Homo sapiens: one gene and its partner. The protein of the gene in region 2 purifies or fractionates together with the protein of the main gene of each other region. This does not show direct contact. Each region holds a gene or a part of one and is shown on either strand. Other genes may lie near its edges.

The links.
Region 1: the proteins of RUSC2 (region 2) and KLC1 purify together in Homo sapiens (affinity purification with mass spectrometry, with the first as the bait; one study listed by BioGRID). This does not show direct contact.

What each region holds. Positions count from the first base shown.
Region 1 is NC_000014.9:103,635,605-103,639,431, reverse strand, and holds part of KLC1 (kinesin light chain 1), read right to left. Parts: intron 1-3,827. UniProt on the Homo sapiens protein: Kinesin is a microtubule-associated force-producing protein that may play a role in organelle transport. The light chain may function in coupling of cargo to the heavy chain or in the modulation of its ATPase activity.
Region 2 is NC_000009.12:35,493,000-35,496,826, reverse strand, and holds part of RUSC2 (AP-4 complex accessory subunit RUSC2), read right to left. Parts: intron 1-3,827. UniProt on the Homo sapiens protein: Associates with the adapter-like complex 4 (AP-4) and may therefore play a role in vesicular trafficking of proteins at the trans-Golgi network.

The DNA of each region.
Region 1 (3,827 bases), on a different chromosome or scaffold from region 2:
GAGCCAGGCGTGGTGGCTCACACCTGTAATCCCAACACTTTGGGAGGCTGAGGCAGGCGGATCACTTGAGGTCAGGAGTTCAAGACCAGCCTGGCCAACATGGTGAAACCCCATCTCTACTAAAAATATAAAAATTAGCTAGGCGTGGTGGCACATGCCTGTAGTTCCAGCTACTTGGGAGGCTGAGGCTGCAATGAGCCAAGATCATGCCACTGTACTCCAGCCTGGACAACAGAGCAAGACTCCATCTCAAAAAAAAGGAAAGAAGAATTCGCATCTGTCCAATATGTTAGTTTTGGGAGCATTTTCAAATGTGTAATATTTTATCGAAATAACAACAAAAAAAGTCTGCAGGTAGTTTGATGACCTATCATTATAATTCCCATTTACAGCTGAGGAAACTGGGATACATGAAGTGATTTAAGCTTATTCTACCAACAAGAAGAACACAATCCAAGGTCTCTTTGCCCCAAGTGTCCCTCTGCTTCAGGAACCCTACCACTCTGCATGCACGCACACACACACACACACCCTTGTGCTCACACACATACACCCTATGTTCATACATATGCACCACTGTGCTCACACACACCCCTATGTTCATACATACACACACCACTGTGCTCACGCACACACACCCCCACTGTGTTCATACATACACACCACTATGTTCACACACACCCACACACCCCACTGTGTTCATACATATACACCCAGACTCCAGCCTGGGTGACAGAGCGAGACTCTGACTCAAAAAAAAAAAAAAAAAAAAAAATTAATGAAATGAAAGCAAAGGCCAGAGAAGCAAAGGGCATCATCTTTGGTCACTTTACCTCCCCTGGTTTTATCATGTGAAATTCAGCCAGGTGGGGAAAGCTTACAGTGATGAAGAAAGTTAAGAAAAAAAAAAAACACCAAGCACTAAAAAGGGAAAAGGAATGTGTGGAATTAGATAGATGGTAGTTGCACAAAACAGAGAATACATTAAAAATCACTGCACTGCACGCTTTAAAATGGGGCATTTGATGTGATGTGACTTACATTTCAATTTTCTAAAAGAGAAAAAGAATGTGGTAGAAAAAGCAATAGGTCTGGGTGCACAGAATGAAGGACAGCCAAGAAAGAAATGTCAATTACTCTCAGTTCTCAAGTGTTAAATAAAGTTCCTATGAATACAGACGAGGGTAGCACATTAAGGAAAAATGGGATGGAGGGAAGAAAACAGAGGTTTTTTCCTTGCAAAGGTTTATAAGGGATGTTTTACCGAGAGATGGGCAACAGGAAACCCTGGCAGTGCTGGCCAGATCAGCAGGGTCAGGTCCCATCCCCATATACAGGCGCAGAAGCCCCAAACAATACCAGCAAAGAGGGTCCTGAGGTGAAGGGACCAGCCTACAGGAACAGTCCACGTCATATTCAGGGAAATAAATAGTATCTTGGTGGCCCAGCATAGTGGCTTACGTCTGTAATCCCAGCACTTTGGGAGGCCAAGGAGAGCAGATCATTTGAGCCCAGAAGTTAAAGACTAGCCAGGGCAATGCCATGAAACCCTGTCTCTACAAAAAACAAGCCGGTCATGGTGGTGCGCACATGTAGTCCCAGCTACTTCAGGGGCTGAGGTGGGACGATCACTTGAACACGAGGCTGCACTGAGCCACGACTGTGACACTGCACTCCAACCTAGGCAACAGAGCAAGATCCTGTCTCAAAAATTAAATAAATACATAAATATTTTTTTAAAAAGAAAACATTAACAACCAGACAAAACAAATGCATCTATTTGGCCTTTGGGTGACTTATTTATAGATATGCTTTCAGAATTAAGGAAAGCGGATGTTGCTTAGGCAACAACAAAAAATAAAAGATAAAAATAAACCCTGCGAAAATTTCTTTTTTTTTTTTGAAACAGAGTCTCACTCTGTTGCCCAGGCTGGAATGCAGTGTCGCAATCTCGACTCACTGCAACCTCTGCCTCCCGGGATCAAGCGATTCTTCTGCCTCAGCCTCCCAAGTAGCTGGGACTACAGGTGCACACCACCACGCCTGGCGAATTTTTGTAATTTTAGTAGAGACGGGGTTTCACCATACTGGCCAGGGTAGTCTCAAACTCCTGACTTCATGATCCACCCGCCTCGGCCTCCGAAAGTGCTGGGATTATAGGTGTGAGCCACCGCGCCCAGCCGAAAATTTCTTTAATAAAACTTGCCAGAGCATGGTTAAGAAAAATTAAAAGTATTGATTTATTAAAAGGCACTACCAAAAAATAAAGTTAAGCCATAGATTAGGAAAAAATATTTGCGACACATATATATCTGGCAAACGGCTTGTATAAAAAATACGTCAGCCTGGGCAATAGAGCAAGAGCAAGACTCCATCTGAAAAAAAAAAAACATGTAAGGAACTGCTGGGCGTGGTGGCTCACGCCTGTTAATACCAGCACTTTGGGAGGCCAAGACGGGCGGATCACGAGGTCAGGAGATCGAGACCATCCTGGCTAACATGGTGAAACCCATATCTAATAAAAATACAACAAAAAAAAAAATTAGCTGGGCGTGGTGGCAGGCGCCTGTAGTCCCAGCTACTCCAGAGGCTGAGGCAGGGGAATGGCGTGAACCCGGGAGGCAGAGCTTGCAGTGAGCCGAGATCGCGCCACTGCACTCAAGCCTGGGCAACAGAGGAGACTCCATCTCAAAAATAAATAAATAAATAAATATGTAAGGAACTTAAAAATACAAACAATCCAATTTTTTAAATGGGCAAAAGTCTTGAACAGACACTTTACAAATCCAGGCATACAAAGACCGACAAGCATGTAAGCGCTCACCATTATGAGTCATCAGTGAAATGCACATTAAAACTAACAAGATGCCACTATACCCCGCTAGAATGGCTCAGATGAAAAAGACAGGCAAGGCCAGGCACGGTGGCTCACGCCTGTAATCCCAACACTTTGGGAGGCCGATGGGGGGTGATCACCTGAGGTCAGGAGTTCAAGACCAGCCTGACCAACATGGAGAAACCCATCTCTACTAAAAATACAAAATTAGCCCGGCATGGTGGCCCATGACTGTAATCCCAGATACTCAGGAAATTAAAGCAGGAGAATTGTTTGAACTCGGGAGGCAGAGGTTGCAGTGAGCTGAGATCGTGCCACTGCACTCCAGCCTGGGCAACAAGAGTGAAACTCCATCTCAAAAAAAATAAAAAATAAAGTATTGAAAGTAGTCAAAATCATAGAAACAAAGTAGAAAAGATGGTTACCGGGGGAGGGCGAGGGAGGAGGAGATATCAGTATTTGGGGGCTACAGTCTCAGCGCTGCCAGATGAAAGAGTTCCAGAAATGTGGAACAACGATGTGCATATCCTTAACACTACTGAATTGTGAACTTTTAAATGGTTAAAATGGTACATCTTTGAAAAAAATTGAAGTGGCGCGAGGTTTCCCCAAGAAAAAGTAATGATAGGATTAAACAGCATTATCATGATTCACTTGAAGCTGCAGCTTTAAGTACTGCAAGGTGATTCAAAGCTTATACCGCGAAGCAAAAAAACTGAGTTAGAATCTTGACTTCACAGCTGTGTAACTTTGGTTTCTGAAACTTCCCCTCTCTCACCCTCAAATTCCTCAACAGTAGAATCTCAGTAACAGTACCTATTTTACTTTTTTTTTTTCTTTTTGAGATGGGAGTCTCACTCTGTCGCCCAGGCTGGAGTGCCGTGGCTCGATCTGGCTCACTGCAACCTCCGCCTCCCGGGTTCAAGTGATTCTCCTACCTCAGCTTCCCAAATACCCGGGACTACAGAAGCATACTACCACACGCGGCTAA
Region 2 (3,827 bases):
CACAATAACACCATGTAGTGCATGGATCTGTTACATATTGTTTTACTATAGTATATCCAGCTTAATCAGGTGCAGGGCGACAGTTGAAGGAGTACTCCTGGAAAATGCCTAAGATATGTAGATCTCTAGGATCTTGCACCTTCTGGTGGTTGCATGAAATTCTTCAGAGGAATCATCAGTGATAGTAAATTTACATGTTACATTCATAACAACTCTTATGGGAAATTTAGGATATTCAAATAGGACAACACCAGGAATTGACGTATCACAGAACTTGGTTTACAACAGTCCGAGCATGGATCCCATGCATCACCTTCAGCAGGAGGGGCAGATGGGCTGGCCAAGTGCAAGCTTGATAGAGCGGGATAAGTGACTGCAGGTGCAAGAGACATAGCATCTCTAAGGTTAGCCAACCCTTGGGGAGCCTTTGTAGAAACAAAAGAAGATTTAATGCACCGAGCTTTGTTTCTACGAAGATGAACCTGTTATTTATGGCTCAACTGGTGATACTGCCTGACTTAATTTTAAGTCGAGTTTCTCTAGAGACTTCTGTTTCCTGTTGATTCTCTGTGATCCTCTCTGAGAGCTTCCTGAGAACCCGCTCGATTGAAGTTTGGCTCTCTCATGCCTCAACCTCTGCAGCCTCGAGGTAGGTCTCCACTTGTTGCATGCTTCTCGTTCGGACTCTGTCTAGATCTAAGCCCTCCTCCTCCACTGCTTACTCAACCACTGACTCGAGAGTTTCTCTGGTTACTAGCTCGCTCATCACTCTCTGATGCTTCTTTTGCTTTGGTGTAATTTTCTTCATCTGTTTTGGAGCAACTTTATCCAATCAGCTGTATGCCTAAACACTAACAATGAACAATCTGAAATGGAAATTAAAACAATTCCATTTACAGTAACATCAAAAAGAATAAAATACTTAGGAATGAACTTAACCACGGAAGTGAAAGACTTGTACACTGAGAAATACAAAACATTGCTGGAAGAAATTAGACATAAATAAATGAAAAAACATCTGGTGATCATGAATTGGAAAACTTGCTATCATTAGAGGTGTCAGTATTACCCAAAGTCAGCTAGAGATTCAATACAATCCCTATCAAAATCCCAACAATGTTTTTTGCATAAATAGTAAAATCCATCCTAAAATTCATATGGAATCTTAAGGGATCCTGAACAACCAAAACAATCTTGAAAAAGAAAACCAAAGTTGGAGGACTTACATTCTTGATTTTCCAAACTTACTACAAAGCTACAGTAATCAAAACAGTGTTTTATCAGCATAAAGATAAACATAAAGACCAATGGAAGAGACTAGAGAGCCCAGAAATAAACCCTCACATATCTGGTCAGATGAGTTTTGACAAGGGTGTGAATACCATTCAGTGGGGAAAGGTCAGTCTTTTCAACAAATGGTGTTGGAAAAACTGGATATCCACAAGCAAATGAAATAAGTTAGACCCTTATCTTACATTACATACAAAAATTAACTCAAAATGGATCAAAGACCTAAAGATAAGAGCTAAAACTATATGTATAATATATATAATATATAAAAAATATATTTTATATATTATATATATCATATATAATATAAATATATACTTTATATATAATAAATTATATTATAATAAAATATATTATATATATTTAATAAAATATATATATATAGTATATATAATGTATAATATATACTATAGTGTATATAATGTATAATATATACTATAGTATATATAATATATACTATATATAATATATACTATAGTATATATTATATATACTATAGTATATATAATATATAAAATATATACTGTAGTATATATAATATATAAAATATATATTATATAATATATATAAATTTTATATATGTATAATATATATTATATATAAATTTTATATAATATGTATAATATATATTATATATAAAAAACAAGAAAACAGAGGGAAAGCTTCATGTCACTTAATTTGGCAATGATTCTTGGGTAAGACAAAATGCACAGGTAACAAAAGAAAAATTAGATAAATTAGATTTCAAATTTAAAAACTTTCGTGCATCAAAGGACACTTTTAACAGAGTGAAAGGCAATCCATGGAATAGGAGAAAATATTTGCAAATCATACATCTGAGATGGATTAATGTCCAAAATGTATTAAAAAACTCTTACAACTCAACGACAAACAACCCAATCCAAGAATGGGCAAAGGACTTGAATAGGCATTTCTCCAAAGATATACAAATGGCCGATAGGTATGAAATACATGAAAAAATGCTCGATATCTTTTCATTAGAGAAATATGAATCAAAATCATGAGATATCACTTCACACTGCTTAGGATGGTTATATTACTATTATTATTTTGAGATGGAGTTTTGCTCTGTCACTCAAGCTGGAGTGCAGGGGCATGAGCTCAGCTCACTGCAACCTCAGCCTCCCCGGTTCAAGCCATTCTCCTGCCTCAGCCTCCTGCCTCAGGGATTATAGGTGTGCGCCACCATGCCTGGCTAATTTTTGTATTTTCAGTAGAGATGGAGTTTTACCATGTTGGCCAGGCTGGTCTTGAACTCCTGACCTTAGGTGATCCGCCCGCCTCGGCCTCCCAAAGTGCTGGGATTACAGGCGTGAGCCACCATGCCCAGCCTAGGATGGTTGTTATTTAAAAAAAAAAAAAGAAAACAAGTGTTGCCAAGGATGTGGAAAAATTGGAGCCCTTATGCATTGCTGATGAGAATGTAAAATGCTATAGCCACTGTGGAAAACAGTGGTTCCTCAAATAAATAAATAAATAAATAAACATAAACATAAAATTACCATACAATCCAGCAACACCACTTCTGGGTATATACCCACAAGAACTAAAAGCAGGGACTCAAACATATCTGTACACTCATGTTCACATCAGCATTTTTCATAATAGCCAAAAGATAGATGCAACCAAAGTATCCATCAAAAGATGAATAAACAGAATATAGTGTATACATACAATGGAATATTATTCAGCCTTTAAAAGGAGTGAAATTCTGGCCAGGTGCAGTGGCTCACACCTGTAATCCCAGCACTTTGGGAGGCTGAGGCTAGTGGATCACTTGAGGTCAGAAGTTCGAGACCAGCCTGGCCAACGTGGTGAAACCCCCTCTCTACTAACAATACAAAAATTAGCCGGGCGTGGTGGCGTGCACCTGTAATTCCAGCTACTCAGGAGGCTGAGGCATGTGAATCACCTGAACTGGGAGGCAAAAGTTGCAGTGAGCCAAGATCGTGCCACTGCACTCTAGCCTGGTTGATGGAGGGAGACTCTGTTTCAAAAAATAAATAAATAAAAATAAAAGGAGGGAAGTTCTGATACAGGCTATAAAGTGGATGAACTTTAGACATTATGCTAACCAACTGCAGCACTATTTACAATAGCAAAGCCACGGAATCAACCTAAATACCCATCAATGACAGACCAGATAAAGAAAATGTGGTATATATACACCATGGAATACTATGCAGCCATAAAAAAGAATGAGATCATGTCTTTTGCAGAAACATAGATGGAGCTGGAGGCTATTATCCTTAGCAAACTAACAGAAACAGAAAACCAAATACTGCATGTTCTCACTTATAAGTGAGAGCTAAATGATGGGAATGTATAAACACAAAGAAACAAACAGCAGACACCAGGGTCTTCTTGAGGGTAGAAGGAGGGAGAGGAGCAGAAAAGATAACTATTGGGTACCAGGTTTAATACCTGGGTGATGAAATAATCTGTACAACAAACCCCTGTGAAATGAGTTTATCTATATAACAAACCCTCATATGTACCCCTGAACCTAAAATAAA